2 linked regions of the Homo sapiens genome follow. Each later gene encodes a partner of the first gene's protein in a complex. Each region holds a gene or a part of one and is shown on either strand. Other genes may lie near its edges. A codon is read from its position in the direction of its gene.

Region 1 (6,887 bases):
GGGGCCACATCTGTGTTGAATTGATCGGGCTGGTGGCAGGCAGCAGGTCAGGTTTAGTAGGCGGCGCTGGTGGGAGAGAGAGGTCACTGCACTATTTTCAGCAAATGCCCAACCCCCTCCCTGCACACCACCTCCCCTTCCCCCCACCCTAACCCCCCCAAACACACACACTCCCAACCATGGCTGGAAGGCCTAAGGGCAGGAGGTTGGGCTGAGAGGGCAGGGGCCTCTTGGTGTGGGGAGGAGAGAGAAACTCGGGCTGGGCTTGGCTCCCAGAAGGGCAGGGGGCTGGGTTCCCAGGATGAAGGCTTGGTGGGAGAGCCTGAGAGGGTAGAGGGAACTAGGGCAGGCAGAGCAGCCTAGGAGAGGTGGGGGCTGGGGTCCAGGGTTGAGGGCTGGGGGAGGGGAGGGAGGGGGAGGGGAACGGAGGCCATCTCTGCTGACAAACACCTCCCCCGATTAGCAGAGCACAAGTCTCTTATTAAAGCGGGTCCCTGGGGATTAGACTATAAAAGTCTCTTTTTCCTTTTCCCCTCTCTCCCTCCCCTCCCCTCCACTCCCCCTCCCTCTCTTAAGAGCTCAGCTAGGCTCTTAAAGGGGACGTACAATACCTGGCCGGAGACCCAGTTCCCTACTTGTACAAGTCCTGGGGTGGCACGGGACTGTAAGTTTTGATGGGATCCTACCAGCTGGTGTCCCCTTCCCACCGACCCAGGCCTCACCTGCACAGCCCAACTCATGAAGGCAGGGTCCCTTCACTTCGTGTATCCCCATTACCAGAGCTAACTCTGGTGGGCTCAGGCCTGTTGGTTAAGGGATGCTAAGGATATTTAGGGGCAAGGAGAAGTCCACAGCCCCATCACCCATCCTGGAAATCTTCACACACACTACACCACAGAGACTAGAGTATCTTTTCCCTCTGTAACCTTCATCTTCCAGCAAACTCTTGATCTGAATTCCTCTATAACTCTGTTTCCTAGAAACCCCACCCCCTACCCCTGCCCTCAGTCGATCTGAGACTGACCCTAGCTTCCATAAGCAGAAGGCTTAAGAATAGAAGGGAAACTGAGGAACCCCAGACCGGATCCCCATACCTCCCACCCCCACAGCCAGTTTCCTGGTTCTTTGAGTTTAACAGCCCTGACCAAGTCTTGTGGAATTGAGGTCTGCAGAAATACCAGGGGCAGTGTGAGGCACTCAGCCTCCCAGATGCACACCTGGGTTCCTGTGCCTCTCCCATGGGGGTGGGCCACTGGGACTCCCCTCAGCCCCCAGCTTTTTATGACCCATCTGCCAATAAACCAGTCTCCCCCGTCTTCTGTTCACAGCCATAAAACCAAACTCTGTGTGTGTTGCAGGGGGCTGTGGGAAGGGGGGAACCTTGCCAAACCACTAGGGAATAAGAGAGGCCTGGTTCCCTGTAGTTGGGGAGGGGGGGAGACCTCAGTGGGGGAGGAGAAGGAGTCACCTGACCCTAAGGAGAGCTGGAAAAGGGGGGGTGTAGTATTCGCCTGGATTTTCCAGGCCATAAAATTTCAAAGCAGCTCATGTCTATTATATGTTCATCTTCCGTTTGGTCAGGGGCTCGGATGCCTGGGTTCCTGCTCCCCCATCTACTACTTTCTCTTTTTTCCTAGGTCTTCGTCTCTCTCAAGTCCACCTGCGGTAGGGGTGGGCGAATAAGGGATGGAACACTAAGGTTTGAGTAGCCAATGAGTGTCCTTAGCCCCCAGCGCAATGGAGTTGAGCTCTCCGAGCTCGGTCAGTATCAAGAAGGCACAGCTTTTCCGACCCCTTGGGATACCCGGTCTGAGACAGGGGTCAGGATGGAAAGGGTGCCAGCTGGGCTGCCAGGAGGTGTACAGGGCTCTGGGACCCTATTCTTGGGAGAAAGCACACAGTTCTCTGCAACCCGTTGGGCACGTTGCGAACGGAGCACGGAGTGGGGAGTTACCGCCAGGGCCACTGGGAAGCAGAGAGCACTGCAGTCCAGCTGGGGCTGCGGGGGTCCTGCAGCCTCCCGATTCTGTTCTCCAGCCTCCCCACCACGGCTTTTCAGGACAGAGTCACTGCCCAGCCCCAGCTTCCCCGGACTCCAACAAGGATCTTTTTAGCATACTGGGGGTGGAAGGCACTATCTCGAAACCCGCCCCATTTCCCCCGCCCCAACCTCCGGGAACTAGGCGTGCATACAACTTTGCAGCCCATCTCCACCGCTCGGAAAACTTCTATGAAGTAGCCCCCGCTCCCTAATTCGTCAAGTTTTCGCAGAAAAAGCTTCCGGGCCGGGGCAGCAGGGAGCGCCCCGCTTGGAGCAGAAGGCGCCCTTCGCGGGGCCAGAGCCAGCACCCCACTGCTCGCGCCCCGCAGCCCACTTACTCTCCTGGGCCATGCTAATGACGGTCTCGGTGGTGGCGTGGTACTCGTCCTCCTCCAGGAAGTCCTCGGGCTGCAGCGCGTCGCCCTGGAAGTCGTGTAGGTCCAGGATCTGCTGCAGCGGCGGCGCCTTGGGCAGCAGCTGCTTCACCACCTCGCGGCTGATGTTGGGCGCCTCCTTGAGCCGCAGTTTGCTCAAGATCTGCGACTTGATGCTCTCTAGGCGCAGCTCGCGGCTGTGCTGCCGCCAAACGCACACGGGGCAGCCGTCCGGCTCGGGCGCCACGGACGGGGCTGGCCGGCTGGAGCGCTCCCCCCCGACCCCCGCCGCTGCCGCCGCCGCCGCCGCCGCCGCCGCCGCCGCGGGGCCCTCGGCCGCCTCCCCCCGGGGCCGCAGCTCCAGGGCGAGGAGCAGGAAGCCCAGCAGCAGCGGGGCCGCGAGCACCATGCTGGAGGGGAGGGGAGGGAGGACTGGGGGGCGGGGACGCCGGAGTCCCGCGGGGAGGGGGCGGAGGGAGGAGGGAGGGAGGAGGAGGGGGTCCGGGCGGCGCGGGATTGGGGGCTGCCCGGCCGAGGGGGGACCCGGGGGGCCGGGGGCGGCGGGCGCGCGGGCGGGGCGGGCGGGCGGCCGGGGCGGGCGGCTGGGGGGGCCCGAGCCCGGGCCAGGCCCTTTATAGCCCCGGCCCCCGTGTCGTCAGCGGCCGCGATTGGCTGCGGAGCCAACAAAAGAGGCAGCGCTGTCATCCGAGGCGAGAGAGGGAGCCGGAGAGAGCCGAGGAATAGAGAGAGGGAGGGAATGAGGGAGCAAGGGCCAGAGAGAGATGAAGAGACAGAGATATGAGGGGGCGGGGGGGCGGATATAGAGGGAAAGTCAGAGCCAGAGAGACCAAGGAGAATCAGAGAGATAAGGGGGAAGAGACAGAGATAGGAAAAGGAGGAGGAGAGAGGGAGAGACAAAGGAGGAAAAGAAGAGTCAGGGGGAAGACGCAGAGGTGAGAGACTTAGCTAGAGAGGGAAATTGTGTGTCTGTGGGAGACACAGAACCAAGAAGGAGGAAGACTGGGACAACTAGTGGGAGAGTTAGAGTGGAGACAAAAATGGGGAGAAGAGGGGTACCACTAGATAGGGGGAGACAGAGGTCTACAGAGCCAGACCAGAAGAGATCGGGGGTCATGGAGATGGGAACAGCGGCAGAGGAACAGAGGACAGAAGAGTGCCCTGGGAAAGGGGTGGGGGGGGGGGTGGGGGGGAGAGAAATCAGGATGGGGGAGGAGAGAGAGGGGCACAGACAGGGAGACAACAAGGGAGCCCCTGAGGAGGCAGGTGCAGGGGATTGGGGGTGGGGGAGAGGAAAGGCAGAAACTCCTGAGAGAAGGAGCCACAAGAGTCAGCCTTGGTGGGAGCACAGAGAGCCCAGGGGACAGAGGTGGAGAACTTGAGACCAGAGGAGCTCTAGCCACCAGAGGTAGCCCAAAGAAGATGCTCAAGGAAGCCATGGAAGGAAGCACCAGGCTAGGCTCATCAGAGGGATTAAGGGGACTAGGAGAGGAAGAGGTCAGGGACAACCTAAGAAGGTGGAGAGGTGATGGGAAGAACTGAAACAGAGGGAAGACATAGAGCTGGGAAGACTGTGAGCTTGAAACTGGGGCTTAACAGGGCTAATGTAGTCAGCCGGCTGGAAAAGGCAGGAGCTAGAGGCCACTGGGGGAAGGGTGAGAGGAGATGGCTGGAGGCTGTTATACTTGGGGAGAAATCTAGATCTCTGGATTTCTAGCTATATCTTTGGATCTGCAGGGTCTTAGAAGTCTGAGAAGGGGCTGGAGGTTGCAAGGGTGAGCATGGGAAAGAAGTCTGCGCTCAGATGCACGAGATGAAATACAGATGTGGGACCAGCCCTAGTCTTCAGGTGTGATCCTGGGCAGTCAGAGAGCAGAGTAAAACAGTACTAAGGTGAAAAAATGTTTTGAATGTGCTTAACTTCTGACTTCAGGTTTTCCAGGCTTATTTCTGGATCTGAAAGCCCTGGAGCAATAGTCAAATGGAAAATGTTTGTGCCAGGCCAGGCGCGGTGGCTCACGCCTGTAATCCCAGCACTTTGGGAGGCCGAGGTGGGCGGATCACGAGGTCAGGAGATCGAGACCATCCTGGCTAACACGGTGAAACCCTGTCTCTACTAAAAATACAAAAAATTAGCCGGGCGTGGTGGCGGGTGCCTGTAGTCCTAGCTGCTGGGGAGGCTGAGGCAGGAGAATGGCGTGAACCTGGGAGGCGGAGCTTGCAGTGAGCCGAGATCGCGCCATTGCACCCCAGCCTGGGCGACAGAGTGAGACTCCGTCTCAAAAAAAAAAAAAAAAGAAAAGAAAAGAAAATGTTTGAAGGAATCAGGTCTTGCTAATTTCCTGGCATTCACAATGTTTATTTAATAAATGGATGAACTTTATTATTGGGCTTCTCAGAATAGAGGGGCATTGGTTTCCTCTCTGGAATTAAAGCCCAATAACATATCTTAAAGTTGGCTTGGCATAGGCATCAGGAGCACCAGACATAAGGATAGAGTTGGGTTGAGGAACTGGAGTAAAATAAGGGAAGAAACTGGGGATCCAGGTATGAGGGGAGGAGGTTGGGTAGGGGTTAGGAGGACCAAGCTGGGGAGCTTTGAAGAGACAATCCATTTCCATGGGTAACAGAAACTGAAAACAAAACAGACTGGAACAAAAACTTAGCTTGTTCCCTCCCTTGCTTTCAACCAAGACATGGGCATTTCAGCATTTCATCAAGTTTCTTAATCTATAATATGGGGCCACAATTCCTACCCTTAACTGGTTGTGGGGATTACATATAAGCAATCAATAGTGGCCTTCATGGGCTTCTTCTCCTTCATGATTCTTCCTTTCCTTTCTGATTTTCCAGAGCAGCGATTGCCTTTAGCACATATTCTGGCATATCCTATTTTCTAAAATGTTTCTCTGTCATTTCTTCAGCAAAATTGGAAAGGCTGTGAGAGCAAAGTTGGTGTCACCTCCTTCTTCTCCCTTAGAGAAGGTAGTACAGGCTTCACTTCCTCACCAAACATGTATCTAGTGGCAGGTACAAAGATAAATGAGATGCAAAAGTAAGTAAGACTCAGCTCCTTTCCTCAGAGAACATATAAACTAGAAAAGACACTAGGTAGGCCGGGCGCGGTGGCTCACGCCTGTAATCCCAATACTTCGGGAGGCCACGGTGGGTGGATCACCTGAGGTCAGGAGTTCGAGACCAGCCTGGCCAACATGGTGAAACCCCGTCTCTACTGAAAATACAAAAATTAGCTGGGCATGGTGATATGCGCCTGTAGTCCCATCTACTCAGGAGGTTGAGATGGGAGAATCACTTGAACCTGGAAGGCGGAGGTTGCAGTGAGCCAAGATCATGCCACTGCACTCCAGCCTGGGCGACAGAGCAAGACTCTGTCAAACAAAAAAAAAAAAAAAAAAAAAAGAAGGAAGGAAGAAAGAAAAGAAAAGAAGAAAAGAAAAAGAAAAGAAAAGAAAAGAAAAGAAAAGAAAAGAAGACATTAAGTAAACAGGACCAGCCAGAACTCTAGGCCAGATGCCTCCTGCATATCTCAATCTGGATGTTTCATGGCACTTCAAATATCACAGGTTAGAGAACCCCTTCTTTCTCCCTAAAATGTGTCCCATCCTGCAGCTTTTCATTTTAGTGAATGACAATCATCCAGGCTAGAAATCTGAATGTCTTGTTTCACCCTTGTCCTCTTGACCATTTCTGAATCTTTGCACAGGTTGTTTCTTCTTCCTAGAACAATTCCCCCTACTACTTCCACTCTCTTCCACCCACCAATCTCTTGGCCAAGTTTACTCTTTCTTCAGGTCTCAGCATAGATCCCATCCAAGAATCCCTTCCTGACTTCGGGTCTAGAGTAGTTGCTTCTCCCAGATATATCTGCACCATTCTGTGAGGTATGGAGATAATCGCCTAGCTTCTAGACTAGAAGTAGGCTGGCTGGGTTCAAGTCCCAGCTCTCTCCCTTTTCTGGTTGTGTAAACTTGGACAAGTTATTAAACCTCTTTATACCTCAGATTCCTCACCTGTAAGATGGGAATAATTATATATATATATAGAGAGAGAGAGAGACGGAGTCTTGCTTTGTCGCCCAGGTTGAAGTACAGTGGCGAGATCTCGGCTCACTGCAACCTCCACTTCCCAGGTTCAAGCGATTCTCCTATCCTCAGCCGCCCGAATAGCTGGGATTACAGGCACGCGCCACCAAGCCTGGCTAATTTTTGTATTTTTAGTAGAGACAGGGTTTCACCATGTTGGCCAGGCTGGTCTTGAACTCCTGACCTCAAGTGATCCACCCGCCTTGCCTCCCGAATTGCTGGGATTACAGGCGTGAGCCACTGTACCTGGCCAAGGATAACAATATTGTACCTATTTCATAAGGTTATGAAGATTAAATGTCTGAAAAACTGTTCTAAATGCATTAGTTATTACTGTTACCCCAACTTACA
Region 2 (7,178 bases), on another chromosome or scaffold:
CAGCCCGCAGACTGGACCCTTCCAGGTGATGTTGGAACAATCCGGGGCGCAGACGCAGCGGGGTTTGTTCTTCTTGTTCATTCGGCATTTTTTCCCAGGTCCACAGTCCACGTTCTCACACGTTTCTGTGAGTTAGAAACAGGCATGGATTAAAACCAGAGCCAGGCAGTCTGCAGGTCAGCCAGGAGGGCTTCGGGTGCCTTGCGCAATCATGCAGCCCTGAGTTTGCGCTGGAGGGGCCCCAGGCTCTCTCCTGGAATATTGGGAGTTGGTGAAAGAGTGTGGACCTTGGGCTGTGCCCCACACCCAGATCTCTCTCATTAAGGAGCACAGGTTGGTGGGTTTCACCACCACACTTGGCTAAGAAGTCTGGCGTGTATTCCCTACAGCCTGTAACAGGCAGAATTAGAGTCTGCACGGCTTACCAGGGCAAGGGACAGGAAGGGGAAGCCCAGGAACAAAGCTCTCCTACTCCCAAACCCCAGTCAGGTAGTGGGGAAGCTAAGGGTAAGACGCCCTCTACTGAGGGCCTGCAAGTTGGGAAGAAGGAGTCCTACCTTTACAGGGGATGCAGTTGGGGGCGCCCCCGTTGAAAATCATCCACTTGAAGAGTGTGTTGTCATTCACGTCCTCCTCGGTCCACGAGGTGCTCAGCCGGCCGGTGCTGCAGCACTCCTCCTTGCTCAGTTCGGTCTTGTACAGGACCTGGCAGCGGCCGTTCTTCGCTTGACGGAGCCAGCAGTTCCCAGCTGTGAAGAGACAAGGGTGGGGAGGTGGGTGAGTGAGCAGTGAGCGGTGGCAGGGCAGGGAGAGCGAGGTGGCTAGCGAAGGAGACCCGGCGGGGATGGGGAGGGGGTGAGCGTGGAGGAGGGGAAGTGAGAGAGACGCGGGAGAAAAGTAGGAAATAAATCGAAAGGGGTGGAGGGGTGGAAAAAGAAGGCAGTGGAGGGGGAAGCCCTGATCACAGAGATGGGAGGTGGGCGAGAGGGAGGGAGGGAGAGAGGGAGAAGACAGGGCGCCCCAGCCATATCAATGTCAGTTACCAGTGACCCAGACACAACACGTGCAGCTTGCATTGACTTTTACTAGACTGTTTACTTTTATTCGTCCCATTTCATAACCTGCAGAGACTCGAAGAGCAGATTAAAGAACCTGACAAAAACAGGATGCGACGGATGTTTTTACATGCTGGTTTCATGTAGGCGGGTACAGGAATTATTTGTGACAGGGGTTAAGAAAGTAAGAGAACGAGAGAGAGGAGAGAGGAGAGATGGAGGGGAGAGAGAGGGAGAAGGAAAGAGAAAGAAAGAAAGAAAAGAAAGAAGAGAAAGAAAGAAAAGAAAGAGAAAGAAAGAAAAAAAGGAAGAAAGAAAGAGAGAGAGGAAGAAAGAAAAGAAAGAGAGAGAGAGAGAAACAGATCAAGCAAAAGGCACTTCTGAAAAATGAAAGCAAAAAAGCAACCCGGCCCAGCCCGGAGCTACCCCGCGCGGCCTCCAGGCGCAGCCAGCCCGACGGGCCCGTTTTGCAATCCGCCAGACCGGAGCACGCCCGCGGCCACCGCGATCTTTCGAAATCTCCGAGGGCTGCTTTCCTCCGCGCCCACGTCCGGGCACCAGGCAGAGCCTCTCCTCTAAAGGCGGGCAACCCAGCGCAGTGCCATGCAGACGGCGAGGGGCAGTGCCCAGGAGGGCAGTTTACAACATACTTAAAATGTTAACGCTGAAGCAGGGAAAGTAATGCCTTAAGGTGGGGGGAGGGGGGAGTCTTCCTACCATTTCACGGTTATAAGTACCTATCTCATACCTAGCAAGAAATATTTGCAAGTGATTTCTCCCTCTTCCCCCTTTTTAATGTTCGGATTTGGGTCGAGAAGACTTCTCATGAATCACCAATATGACTTTAACAATCATTGGATCGCAAGCTGCTATTATTATTTTAAACATTCTGCCCAAAGACTAATTGAAATAAACAAATCTATTTTTAAAAGGCAAGCTTCAGAAATTTGCTCTTAACCCATTTCAGAATTTAAGTCAGTTATGGGCTGCTCACTGTTTTACAGAAAGCTAAGGGTCAGAAAGAAGAATGAGGCAGAGGGGAAAAAAACTGTAAAGTGCTCAAAGCACTTTGGGGTAATAATTTGGCTTTTTTTTTTTTTTTTTTTTTTTTGCGAGAATGGGGGATGGGGTTGGAAGAAGCATCCACTAGGCAGAAAGCTACTTCCCTTGAAAATCTTCAGCACCCACATTTCCAAGTTTGGGCAAAGTTTCTGAAACCACGTCCCCCAGCCACCAAATAAAATTCAGTATCTCTCCCCCAAACCCCCAGGTTTTCTTTTCTTTCTTTCCTTTTTTTTTTTTAAGTATCCAAAAGATGTGGGAGGGAGAGAGATGAGACTGCAAATGGGTCGACTGAAATCTCCAGGCTACTACTGATACTTGTTCCCTTCTTCAGAGCCAAACAGAGGAGATCACATCTAAAGTTATCATGGCCAGAACTTGGAGCATTTAACCCTAACTACTAAGACCCCAGCTCGCTCCCTTTCCTTTTTCAAGATAACCGAGCTCCAAACTCAGTTCCCAGTCCTAAAGTGTCATTGCCTACAATTTTCCCACTCCTCTCCATCCCGGAGTCCCCAAGTTGGTTCAACATCTTCCGAGAGCAGCGTTGCTCAGAACAGACCAAGTGGAGACCACAGAAAAGTCGACCCCCCTGTCCTCAGCCAAGCCTCCCCAGCGCATCCCCACTCGCTTACCCTGGGCACTGCGGTCCTCCATGAACTGGCAGAGCAGCAGCAGCAGGAGGCAAAGCCCACCCGGCTGGTGCCTCGCGCGGACCATCCTGGGGGCAGGCGCGGGGCGAGGAGCGCAGCGGCGCGGGGAGCCGGCGCGGCGGCGGGTGGCTCGGGCGAGCGGCGCGCGTCGCAGAGGCCAGCGGCGGAGGGCGCAGCGATCCCGGCGCAGCCCCGCGCTCGCCGCCGGCCGCCCGCGCGATTCAATGGACGTCAGAAGCCGGGCGCAGCCGCGCTTTAAATCTAGACGGGGGTCTCCGCGGTTTGCGGTGGGCGGTCTCCCAGTGTGTGGGGCTGTGGGAGGGCGGCCGCGAGCGAGGGTGTGCGCGGCTCCTTGGGGGTGGGGAGCTTTCAAAAGTTCAGTGTGAATCAGGTGACATTTCCCACCTTCTGGAAACCCTTCCCAATTATCTTTCGGAGGTGCCCGAAATCAAAACGGCTGGAAGGGAATCGTCGAGTTCTTATTTGCGTAGGAGCGAGAGGGAGGGGGAAGGCGACCGGGGCGGGGGTTGGGGGCTACGCGTCGGGGGTGGGGAGTGGGGAAGAACACCCACTTCAAGTCCTGCTCGCCGCCGCTCGCCGGCAGCGCCGGCGCGCCCGGGGTGGCGGGTGTGTGTGTGAGTGTGTGTGTGAGTGTGTGTGCGCGCGCGCGCGAGTGTGAGAGGGAGGGCGCGGTGGGGGCGCTGGAGGCGGTGGCGGGGGGAACCCGGGAGTTTGTCTCCGTGCTGCCTCTCCTCCGCTCCAAAGAGACTTTTGCAAACGGCCGAAGAGCCCCGGGCTGCCCAAATATCCCGCCCCGGGTCGGGTCGGAGCGCGCCGGCCTCGCGGCGGTTCCGGGCACCCGCAGCCTGGGCGCGGGACCCGCGAGGTTTTGTGTCTGGGTCTGTGAGTGCCTGACTTTGCAGCCACCCCCAGCCCAGAGGTGTTGCTAGGAACCCCGGCCCCGGCACCTTCCACCCTGGCAGAGCGCTACCGAGACGCGGCCCTTCGTCTGGACTAGTCGGAAGCAAACAAAAATGTTTAACACCTCAGGCCCGGTCTCCCCGCGGCACAGCCTCGCCCTCTCCCTTTCTTTTCTCCCCTTTCACTTCGCGGCGTCTGGAGTCGGAGCCCGGAGCGGGGGCGCCGACGTAGGCGGTCTGGCCCCCCCTTCCTCTCCCGCCTGGAGACTCCCCAGTTTCTGTCCTGTGTGCCTCTGTCTGTCTCTCAGTCTCCTCGGCTCCAATCTCTCTCTCTTTCTGTCTCGTCTTCTCTCTTTTCGCGGAATAAAAAAGATTGCAACATCCATAATGAACTTCTGTAGCCTCAGTTTATTAAGTACAGTGCCTGGCATTCTTCGCTGAAAGTTGGCGGGTCTCTCATTTATAACATTTTTGGCACCGCTGAATGAAACTGAGGAGGCGATATTTCCTTTTATATAAAACGATTACTTCACGGAAAATGCTATATTGTTTATTCCAAAGCTGCCTTTTAAATTTGTTCTTTTCGCATCTGAAGCCCGAAGGACAACAGATAGCGAAGTATGCAGACAAAATTCTTGGACATTCGCAGGTCACTGGGATTTGTTCTACGAATTTCAAATCTGCCCTTCTTCCCCCCCTGCAACTGCCCTCCCCCCGCCAGACCCTCCCCCAGTCCTCCTCTAGCCCTCCCACCCCCCATCTTCCGTCAACCTTCCCCCCTCCACAACTGCAAATAACTCAGTGATAACAGATTTTTTTCCACCAACTGCAGGAGATAGTGCTAATCTTTTAATAAAAGATCCCATTACAATGGGATCTGTCTGGACAGACTATAATAGATCCCGAAATACAGCCGTGCTAATATTAGAAGACAGTTGTTTGGGTGCCTCTCAGACGGGCCCAAGCCCCCCTTTGAAAGTGGGCATGAATCACAAAGCCCCGCGGCCGCCGCACCTGCACCGCGCGCATTCGGTGCAGCAGGCTGGTAAAAGCGGGTGACCTCGCCGCCGCTTTTCGCTTTATAATTACCGTCATGAGGACGGGAGGGGAGGGGCTCGGGCGGCCCGGGGGAGACTGGATTTTGCTCACTTCAGACGGCTGTGGGGGCTCCACATCCTTCTTAATCTTTCCAGAATCATTCTGTCTGTTTCTGTCTCGCTGTCTCTCTCCCCTTCTCCCTTTCCCTCCAGTCCTCCAACTCATTCCCTCTGCTCTCTTTCCCCTACTCCTTCCCCTCTTCTCTCCTTCCCTCCCTCTACCCAGACTCTACCCGTACTCTCCCTCCCTTTTCTCCCTCTCTTTCTTTTCCAGTCTCCTTTTCTCTCTTCCCTCCAACTCATTAATGTAGAGTTGTTTAGTGCCCTCTAATGGCAGACGACATTAACAATTAATAGCAAACTGTCCCCTTTGCAGGAGCCGCCACTCAATGGCAGAGTTCCAAAGCTGAATTTATTTCTTCTTTATTCAGAGAAATGGTATAGTCCTTATACAATGATGTGCTGGAGGGAAAGTTTGTTTTCTCTGCTTAAAGGTTCCCCCACCCCTGCCCAGGGATAAGTTAAAGGAAAGAGAAGCTAACAAGTATTGTTACTTGACTTTTCCCCCTACCCTGTCTTTTAATGGCAGCAAGAGACACAGCTTCTTTTTAAGGTAGAGGTATCAAACCGTATATCCAAGGTTGAAAAATAAACATTCCAAATGCATAAAAGATCTCAGATGGTAAGTAACTGGATCTTACAGCAATGCTATCAATGATCATACATAATTACATGATTTTATATTTGTCTCCAGTTTAAATATATTTATTGGTCCTGAATTGGCCAGTAGCCTCTGGAAACTGGGGTCTTTTTCTTAGACTTTCCACCCTAGGACTATACAAAATATTTAAATTTTACTTATATGCCTAGTTGTATATGAAGTCATCTTGCCTGGAGAAATATAGAATCACGTTTTAATCCATATTTATTTTCTCAATATCTTTGGGAAGATTGTTTTAAAGTTCATAATCTCATCATATTTTATAACCGTATAGCAAGGAGAATAGTGATATAACTTGTATGTTCTTATTAGATTTTAATTTTGTTCATTCCTATATGTACATATAACATGTTGATGTAAAAGGGTCATACAAGTATACACAAAGATTACCTTTTTGGGGGAAGGTCTGTGTAGCTAAATGAAGATTAGAATAGAAGCAATTTGGAGGGGCTAGTCAAAAAATTTTCCATGTTTGAGCAAAACTATTTAGTTTGTCCAGATACTTATTTTAGTTTATGTATATAGAAACAACTGATGTCACAAAAACTTTCTAAATTAATTTAAGTTGTATCCTCACAATTCCAGTATGATTGGGTAAAAGTAAAAATTTCATTTCTATTTCATTTTTTGTCTATGTAATGCCAAATGCTCAGACCAGTCATTTGACTAAATTGACTGCCTTGACTAGTTGTTTTGGCATCATGTAATTGTCTTGGCTAAGCCAAAGCAGACACAGTAGCTCTCATTGTAAAAAATGGCACCACAAATAGGAGTCCCTCAGTACCAGAGGGTGACCCAACACAGGATTACTTCTCGTCCCAGAGAAGGTGACCCTGCAGGTCAGGGTTGAGGTCACTGGCAAACACACTGTGGAAAACATAAGTGCTGTGTTGCTTTTGCCCTTTTGAATAAGCAGCTTGGTGTTTGTTTAGTGATACAAGCTCATCCTGTTTTTCAGCTGCACCTTGGATAGTATTGATCTGTTTGGGAGAATGTCTGCTCCAAATCAGCACAGATCAGTCACCATGACTCTTGCCATCTAGGGTTATTTTCAGATCATAACTGAGGAAATGAGACACAGGTCAATACTGGTTCCTTATAGGCTTTCTGTGGGCATCAGCAAGAGATCCATCCCATTTCTGTGGTATGAAATGGTACCACACCTGTTCAGTGACATCACAGAAAAACAGCTGCTATTTCTTTTACTGTTATATCGCCTGTAAATGTTAAATATTGGGTTTGTAGATATCTAAATGTCAAGGGGACATTTTAAAATAAAAATGTCGCCTTTCATTTTTGTTGTATGCCTCCAAGTTTGACTTCTTATTTTTCCTTTCTGCTCTGCCAAATAAAAATGTAAATTATGAGAAACACAATAGGACCACTTTGTAGCTGAATTTCTGGGCAGCACACAAAAAGACTACTGTTTTCTGATTGGTCTTTTGTCAGCTTCAAAAGCTGTCTTCCTTCTGAAGTTTATAAATTTAAAATATTAGAGTTTAGCAAATGATTCAATCTAACTCCCTAGATAGCTATTTAAACTCATATGACATTGTTATTTGAGACCAGAACTGACCTGGTTAAATTTCAGTACCTAAAAAGAGAATATGGAGGGAGTGGGGTGAGGTTATGTAGAGACTATTTGAAAGTCATGAACTGAGTAGCTTTTT

What was found. Proteins that work in one complex are often made in the same cells at the same time.
Region 2: the proteins of GDF11 (region 1) and FST are in contact, whole or in part, in a crystal structure (PDB 5JHW), measured with the Homo sapiens proteins. Residues at the interface, in NP_005802.1 of Homo sapiens: Asn299, Leu300, Gly301, Leu302, Glu310, Arg312, Asp328, Trp329, Ile331, Ala332, Lys334, Arg335, Tyr336, Lys337, Tyr347, Met348, Phe349, Met350, Pro354, His357, Gln361, Ile380, Asn381, Leu383, Phe385, Asp387, Lys388, Gln389, Gln390, Ile391; in NP_037541.1 of Homo sapiens: Leu34 (codon at 735), Arg35 (codon at 732), Gln43 (codon at 708), Val44 (codon at 705), Leu45 (codon at 702), Tyr46 (codon at 699), Lys47 (codon at 696), Thr48 (codon at 693), Arg60 (codon at 657), Ser62 (codon at 651), Asp72 (codon at 621), Asn73 (codon at 618), Leu75 (codon at 612), Phe76 (codon at 609), Met79 (codon at 600), Ile80 (codon at 597), Leu134 (codon at 3), Asp135, Arg149, Gln153, Pro154, Glu155, Val180, Val181, Asp182, Gln183, Tyr188, Val190, Thr191, Asn193.

The regions. Positions count from the first base shown.
Region 1 is NC_000012.12:55,739,254-55,746,140, reverse strand, and holds the start of GDF11 (growth/differentiation factor 11 preproprotein), read right to left. Parts: upstream 3,020-6,887; 5' UTR 2,825-3,019; coding exon 2,380-2,824; intron 1-2,379. UniProt on the Homo sapiens protein: Secreted signal that acts globally to regulate anterior/posterior axial patterning during development. May play critical roles in patterning both mesodermal and neural tissues. It is required for proper vertebral patterning and orofacial development.
Region 2 is NC_000005.10:53,476,451-53,483,628, reverse strand, and holds the start of FST (follistatin isoform FST344 precursor), read right to left. Parts: upstream 3,001-7,178; 5' UTR 2,838-3,000; coding exon 2,753-2,837; intron 1,298-2,752; exon of another isoform or gene 1,114-1,297; coding exon of another isoform or gene 1,044-1,113; intron 750-1,043; coding exon 558-749; intron 126-557; coding exon 1-125. UniProt on the Homo sapiens protein: Multifunctional regulatory protein whose primary function is to antagonize members of the transforming growth factor beta (TGF-beta) superfamily including activin, myostatin, GDF11 or bone morphogenetic proteins (BMPs).